2 linked regions of the Homo sapiens genome follow. The protein of the gene in region 2 purifies or fractionates together with the protein of the main gene of each other region. This does not show direct contact. Each region holds a gene or a part of one and is shown on either strand. Other genes may lie near its edges.

Evidence for each region.
Region 1: the proteins of SUCLA2 (region 2) and ZNF146 purify together in Homo sapiens (affinity purification with mass spectrometry; 2 studies listed by BioGRID and IntAct, with this or other methods). This does not show direct contact.

What each region holds. Positions count from the first base shown.
Region 1 is NC_000019.10:36,218,030-36,221,779, reverse strand, and holds part of ZNF146 (zinc finger protein OZF), read right to left. Parts: intron 3,659-3,750; 5' UTR 3,585-3,658; intron 1-3,584.
Region 2 is NC_000013.11:47,994,659-47,998,408, forward strand, and holds part of SUCLA2 (succinate--CoA ligase [ADP-forming] subunit beta, mitochondrial precursor), read right to left. Parts: intron 2,366-3,750; coding exon 2,185-2,365; intron 1-2,184. UniProt on the Homo sapiens protein: ATP-specific succinyl-CoA synthetase functions in the citric acid cycle (TCA), coupling the hydrolysis of succinyl-CoA to the synthesis of ATP and thus represents the only step of substrate-level phosphorylation in the TCA.

The sequences.
Region 1 (3,750 bases), on a different chromosome or scaffold from region 2:
AAAAACCCACTTGAAGGATAAACAAGAAGCAAACAAAAAAAAACAAGACATGTTTACATAAGACAAAGAAGAATGTGACTGGGGGAAGGGAGCAGAATGAGATATCTCTGTGAGATAGATCTTTGTTGAATCACAGAAATGCATTACTTACTTCAATAGTAATCAAATTCATTTTTTAAAAAGTAGTGCCTTGGCCAGGCACGGTGGCTCAAGCCTGTAATCCCAGTACTTTGGGAGGCTGATGCGGGTGGATCACGAGGTCAGGAGATCAAGATCATCCTGGCTAACATGGTGAAACCTCGTCTCTACTAAAAATACAAAAAATTAGCCGGGCGTGGTGGCTGACACCTATAGTCCCAGCTACTCGGGAGGCTGAGGCAGAAGAATGGCGTGAACCCGGGAGGCGGAGCTTGCAGTGAGCCGAGATTGCGCCACTGCACTCCAGCCTAGGGGACAGAGTGAGACTCCGTCTCAAAAAAAAAAAAAAAAAAAAAAGCAGTCCCTTAACCTGAAAACAACAAATGAACCCAACTGTATGTTAATTTAGTAACATAATTCCTCAGAAAAACGATTTCAAATGACTTTAGAACAGAGTTCTTTGACTACATACATCTTTAGTGAGATGCATTTTAAAAGCTGGGCTCAGTGGCTCATGCCTGAAATCCCAGCACTTTGGGAGGCCAAGACGAGTAGGAAGTCAGGAGTTCGAGACCAGCCTGGCCAACATGGTGAAACGCTGTCTCTACTAGAAATACAAAAATTAGCTAGGCGTCATGGTGGGCACCTGTAATCCCAGCTACTCAGGAGGCTGAGGCAGGAGAATCGCTGGAACTGGGGAGGCAGATGTTGCAAGTGAGCCAAGATCACACCACTGCACTCTGCCCTGGGCAAAAGAGTAAGACAACATCTCAAAAAAAAAAAAAAGATGCATTTTAAGAACAAAAATAGTTACATATATTAAAGAAAGAATTTTTTAACATGATACAGTATGTTTATGGTTACTACTAGTATCAGCATTGTTACTGAAACCATTTTCTTTATATTGCAGGATAAAGCAAACAAAATAAGTACTTATAACTTGTTTCATATTTTTTACTATAAAATACAACTAGGAGGCCGGGCGCCGTGGCTCACGCCTGTAATCCCAGCGCTTTGGGAGGCCAAGGTGGGCAGATCACCTGAGGTTAGGAGATCGAGACCATCCTGGCTAACACGGTGAAACCCCATCTCTACTAAAAATACAAAAACTTAGCTGGGCGTGGTGGCATGCACCTGTAGTCCCAGCTACTCGGGAGGCTGAAGCAGGAGAATCACTTGAACCCAGGAGGCGGAGATTGCAGTGAGCTGAGATCGTGCCACTGCACTCCAGCCTGGGCGACAGAGCAAGACTCCGTCTCAAAAATAAAATAAAATTAAATTAAAAAAAAGAACTAGGAGCTAAGAAATTAGGTAAAAATACTATACCATTTAAAGTGAATTAGAAATACGAATATGGACTCATGATTTTTAAAAATACATTAAAAATGTATTTTTTAAATGCTCTGCAATTTAAAATGGCCTTAAAACAATGTTACCCCTGGGCAATGAGCACACCCTTGATCTTGTCTCTAATACCATTCTCCAATAAAAGGAACCAGAGCTCCTTGGAGAAATGGTCAATTCCAAGTCTGGGAGGAAGATACAAGCCTGCAGTGCAGGAAAACTTTCCAAGATCAATGATGTCAGCCAAAATGAGACAAGAATGACCTGAAGGGGTATCCACTGGCATCAAAAAGTGCAGCTGATTCTAGAACACGCTAAATATACACAACTTTAGGATGATGTTTAAGAAAGAAAAAGCCAGGGGGAAAAAAAGATACAATTTGATGTAACAATGAAACAAATGTAAAAGGAATGAAAAGACAAGAGAAATTAAGACTATACTTCCAGGGATCATTTCTAGTTTGTTCCCAGAAGTTTCTCTTAACGTATAGACTACTACATTTTTACACAAAACAAACAAACAACAACAACAAAAAAAACAGAAAATCATCACTTTACAATACCTGTAGAAATTTACTCATCCAGCCAAGAATTATGTATTGGTTTTAAAACCATCCACTAAATGACTGATGGAGAATGAACCAAAGTAAACATAACATTTTGGTCAAAGGGAAGTAACAATCACCAGCCATCTGGTATATCTCTCCTAATGGTATGCAATTTGAAGTATGTAAGATCACCTCTGATGTATTCTGGCCAAAAATCAATCACAATTAGAATTAAAAAAAAAATCATCAGAGATTCTGAATTAGAACCATGCAAAAGTAATCATAGAAATCAAAGAACAAATCTTCCAAAGGAGCGGATAATGATGACTTTCTAAAGATAAACATAACTCAAACACAGAAATCTAACTTCCAGCCTGGGCAACATAGTAAGACTCCATCTCTACAAAAAAAGGTTTAAAAATTAGCAGGTCGTGGTGGCACACACCTGTAGTCCCAACCACTGCGGGGGTGGGGCTGAGGTGGGAGGATCTCTTCAGCCCAGGAGGTGGAGGCTGCAATGAGATGTGATCGCACCAGTGCACCCAGCCTGAGCCAGAGTGAGACCCCATCTCAAAAATCAAAAAACAAACCTAACTTCCTGATTCCAGTTAAAAAAGGAAATATCCACAGAAAATTTTAAGTGGCCAGGCGCAGTGGCTCACGCCTGTAATCCCAGCACTTTGGGAGGCCGAGGTGGGCGGATCACGAGGTCAGGAGATGGAGACCATCCTGGCTAACACGGTGAAATCCCGTCTCTACTAAAAATACAAAAAATTAGCCGGACGTGGTGGTGGGCGCCCGTAGTCCCAGCTACTTGGGAGGCTAAGGCTGGAGAATGGCGTGAACCTGGGAGGTGAAGCTTGCAGTGAGCCAAGATAGCACCACTGCACTCCAGCCTGGGCGACAAACCGAGACTCTGTCCCCCCCTCCACCAAAAAAAAAGAAAATTTTAAGTAAAAAAATTAAAATATAGAAATATTAGGCCGGGCGCAGTGGCTCACGCCTGTAATGCCAGGACTTTGGGAGGCTGAGGCAGGTGGATCACAAGGTCAGGAGATCCAGACCATCCTGGCTAACGCGGTGAAACCCCATCTCTACTAAAAATACAAAAACAAAATTAGCCAGGCGTGGTGGCTGGCACCTGTAGTCCCAGCTACTCAGGAGGCTGAGGCGGGAGAATGGCATGAACCAGGGAGGCAGAGCCTGCAGTGAGCCGAGATCAGGCCACTGCACTGCAGCCTGGGCGACAGTGAGACTCCATCAAAAAAAAAAAAGAAATATTAATAACAAAAGTGCATCTACATATCTTATTCTTTCAGAAATTCCTACCAGACACAGGACTATAATATTTTCTGAGGAAGCATTTTTTTTGCAGCTAGTAATAAAAAGTACTAGTATTTAACATTAATCAAGTACTTACTACACACTGGGGACTATTCTTAGAACTTTACATGTATTAACTTCTGGAGCTACACAACCACCCTTTGAATCAAATATTGCTATTATTTCTATACTATGAAATGAGCAACTGAGGCCCAAGGTTTAAGTACCTACCTGAGGTCCCCAAGGTAAAAAGTGGCAGAGGAAGGAGTTAACACAGGAAGTCTGGCTCCTTGGCCTATGTCTTCCTTTAATTTAAAAAAAAAAAAAAAAAAATTAGCTCATGCCTGTAATCCCAGTACTTTGGGAGGCTGAGGCAGGCAGATCACATGAGGTCAGG
Region 2 (3,750 bases):
CCTCTAGATTTAAATTTCCTTGTTAATTATTAGTCTCCCTCCCACACTATAATCATCATTTGCAATATTCTTTGACAAAAAACACACTTTCTAAATGAACAAGGTATCTGTTCCAAGGGGCTCAAAATCAGAGCTGCCTACCTGCTTCTTATTACTTGTGAGTTCTGGTCCCAGAGAACTTGCCAGAAATACTCATAGTTACAGTTTATCCTGCACATATTATTTCTTTCTTCTGTACCTAAGAATCATTAAGTTTTTATAAGGCATAATCAAAACAGATTGGCATCTGAATTAATCCTATTCATTTTATGAAAAAGTTTCTATGCAAATTATTTTTTCTGACAAAACAATGGAATTTCACTAAATGAGAAAATATACGGAAAACTAGTTAAAGAAACCAATTATAATACTCAAAAAATAGACACAGTGGCATGTGCCTGTAGTTCCAGCTACTCAGAGGCCTAAGTAGGAGGATCACTTGAGCCCAGGAGTTTCAGACTAGCCTGGGCAACATAGTGACCCTATCTCTAAAAAAAATTTTTTTTTGGAATTTTAAAATCTGGAAACAAGAGGAAAACCATTTTTACCGACGTAATTATATATAAATCAGGTCCCATTAACATTAACCATGCAGAAGTTCCAATTATAGGTCACCATTAACAAAAATTTCACCACAATTAGTATGAACTTATACAAAGCTTTTGCTTAATAAAAAGTTTGCTTGTAATCTGATTTAAAATAATTCTTTCTGATTAACAACAATAAAAACAACAAAACTATAAATGAAAAATCATGCTTCCAAGTCAAGGAAATCATGGCCATCTCATTCAAAAACATAGCTTATATGACAGTTTTCTGAACTTGTATATATCCTTAATTTTGAAAGAAAAATCCATTCTAGATACAAATAAGTACTACACAAGATGAATACTTTTAAAATTTCAATCACTTTGAAAATGCTCATCTTTCTTAAAAAATATAAAAGCAAAGTATTCACCAAATCATATTTAAAGCCTATTAATTAAATGTACATAGAAGAGAGATTATTTATGCTAATCTACGTAAAATTGGTGGGATTTAAAATACTGCTAAAAAGAAACTGCAGTGTATAGCTAGTACATCAGCTCATGGTTTTCATGCTAAATCTTTAAAAATGTAAGCTTATTTTCTGAAATCAAAAATTATTTTTTGATTAAGAGATTAATTCAAATTGACAAAAGCTATTAAGGCTTCTGTTATCAATAAAGGAATCTGCTAATAAACATGGGCAACTATTAAATTCATTTAATATTTATTCATTTAGTATTTATTGATTACCTAAGTGTCAGGCATTCTTCTAAGATTTTGGGATATATCAGTGAACAAATAAGAAAAAGAAACTCGGGCTGTATGTGGTGGCTCACACCTGTAATCCCAGCACTTTGGGAGGCGGAGGCGGGCAGATCACGAGGTCAGGAGTTCAAGACCAGCCTGGCCAACATAGTGAAAACCCGTCTCTACTAAAAATACAAAAAAATTAGCCGGACATGGTGGTGGTGCTTGTAATACCAGGTACTCGGGAGGCTGAGGCAGGAGAATCCCTTGAACCCGGGAAGCGGAGGTTGCAGTGAGCCAGGATTGCACCATTGCACTCCAACCTGGGCAATAAGAATGAAACTCCGTCTCAAAAAAAAAAAAAAAAGAAAAGAAAAAGAAACTCTGCTCTCAAGGAGTTTACATTCTAGCACTCTACTTTTTGTTCCCCTTTGGTTCCATATTTTTCATGACAAAAAAATGGAGGGGGAAGCACGGACCTCTCCTTATAAGCACATAAACAGCTAAGATTTTCCTTCACCATTTCCCTGAAGAATCATCACAACTGCCATCCTTTAAGCTCCAGAGTAGTTAGAGTGGTAGTAGTAGAATTCCCTTCCCCATAATTATATTCCAACTAAAAACAGGACTTCAGCTTCCTAATGCCAATGTAAGTGACTCCCACGTCACTGGCATTATGGGTGCTCATAATAATAATAATAATAATAATTTTAGAATTTCAATAATAATAAAGTTCTACCTTCTATTTTAAGCAAAGAAAATGTATTTTTTTTAAAAAAAAGCTAAAAGTTGTTATCAAACCAAAAACAAACTTCAAATCTTCTCAGAGCTCTCATGTCAAGGTGGCAAAAGCTTTTCTTAATTTAGTACCTAATTTTTTGGCAATTGCATAAGCTTCATCTGGTGACTTTGCCACATATCCTTTGGGAACGGAGACACCAGCTTCTTGCAATAATTCCATACTCATGTATTCATGTAGTGAGAGATTCCTTTGCTGTTGCTGCTGTACTTGGAGTCCATGGTTATTAAACAATCCAGAACTTCCCAGAACCTAGAAAGATTGGGGACATATTTATATATGACAGTGATTTGGCAGTCACTCTTGCTAACTACTTGGTTCTTCATAACTATAACAAAACTGTTACATTACATTAGCAAAGTACAATATTCAGAGTACCTGAATTACAGCATAAAACTAAAAGCTAGCCTATCAGCTAAATATCACTGTTACCACTGTCATTTTAATTATTTCCTCATCATCTCTATTCCTTATTTCAGATTTCAGCTTTACTATCATATCTCCAATGATCTACAGGGCAGTTCTACCTCAATGCCAAATTCAGCGGATCTAAAACCAATCTCATCTTTTCCACCAAACCAAAAATCCTTCCCAATTTTCTTCTCTCTACCATTCCTCCACACCTAACAAGTCACCTGGCACTAGATATGTAATAATAAAATGATTTGATACCATTACTCTTTCATACACTCGATATTCAAAACCATGGCTTCATCTGTAGTGGATGTTGCAGTATGCTGCCCAGATCTCCCTGGCACTCCCCATTCAGGACCAAGGCATTCATAGCCCCCACTGCTGCTGCTGGGAGTGCTGGTTGCTGACAGCTCTCAGCCAAGTCCTCTTACTGGAGCCTACTTGCCCAAAGTCACACCTCCTTCCCACTGTCAGCCTGCACCCAATGACTGGTCAATGGAATCACACATTTAAATGTTATCCACGCATTTCCATAATCTCAATACAGAATGCAGTATACTGAAACATGGTTCATATGAAACACACAGTGTCCTAAGAATTAAATTTAAAGAGGTCATAGAAACAATCTGTTTCTTAAAGTAGGTTCATAAGCTTTTGCCTCAAAATTAACTGGGTGCTTGTAATCTGCAGATTCCTGAGACCCATTCTCAACTGCACTATTAGAATCTCTGGACTGGGCCCAAGGAAATCTGCATTCATAACAAGTCACTCAGTTGATTCTTAAGAACCCTACAGTTATGAGAACTACTAGTCTTACAAATCAATCATATATAATAGCAACTTATTTCTGATCCATTTAGCAAGCTAAAATCCTTGGTAACATTTGACCTAGGTAGCTCAATTCCTTGATTTAGTGTCACTTCAATATTAAAAGCCAGCAACCAAGCTGGGCACAGTGGCTTACACCTATAATCCCAGCTACTCCTGAGACTGAGGCAGGAGGATCCCTTCAGCTCAGGAGTTTGAGACTGCAGTGAGCTGTGATTTCACCACTGTCCTCCAGCTTGGTCAACAGAGCAAGACCCTGTCTAAAAAAACAAATAAATAAGTTAAAAAAAAAAAAAAAAAGAAAAAAAAACCCAGCAACCTCTCAAACTACTGTTTAGTATACCTCCACCTTCTGACTCAGAAATCCCATTCCTGGGTATGTATCAATAGAAATT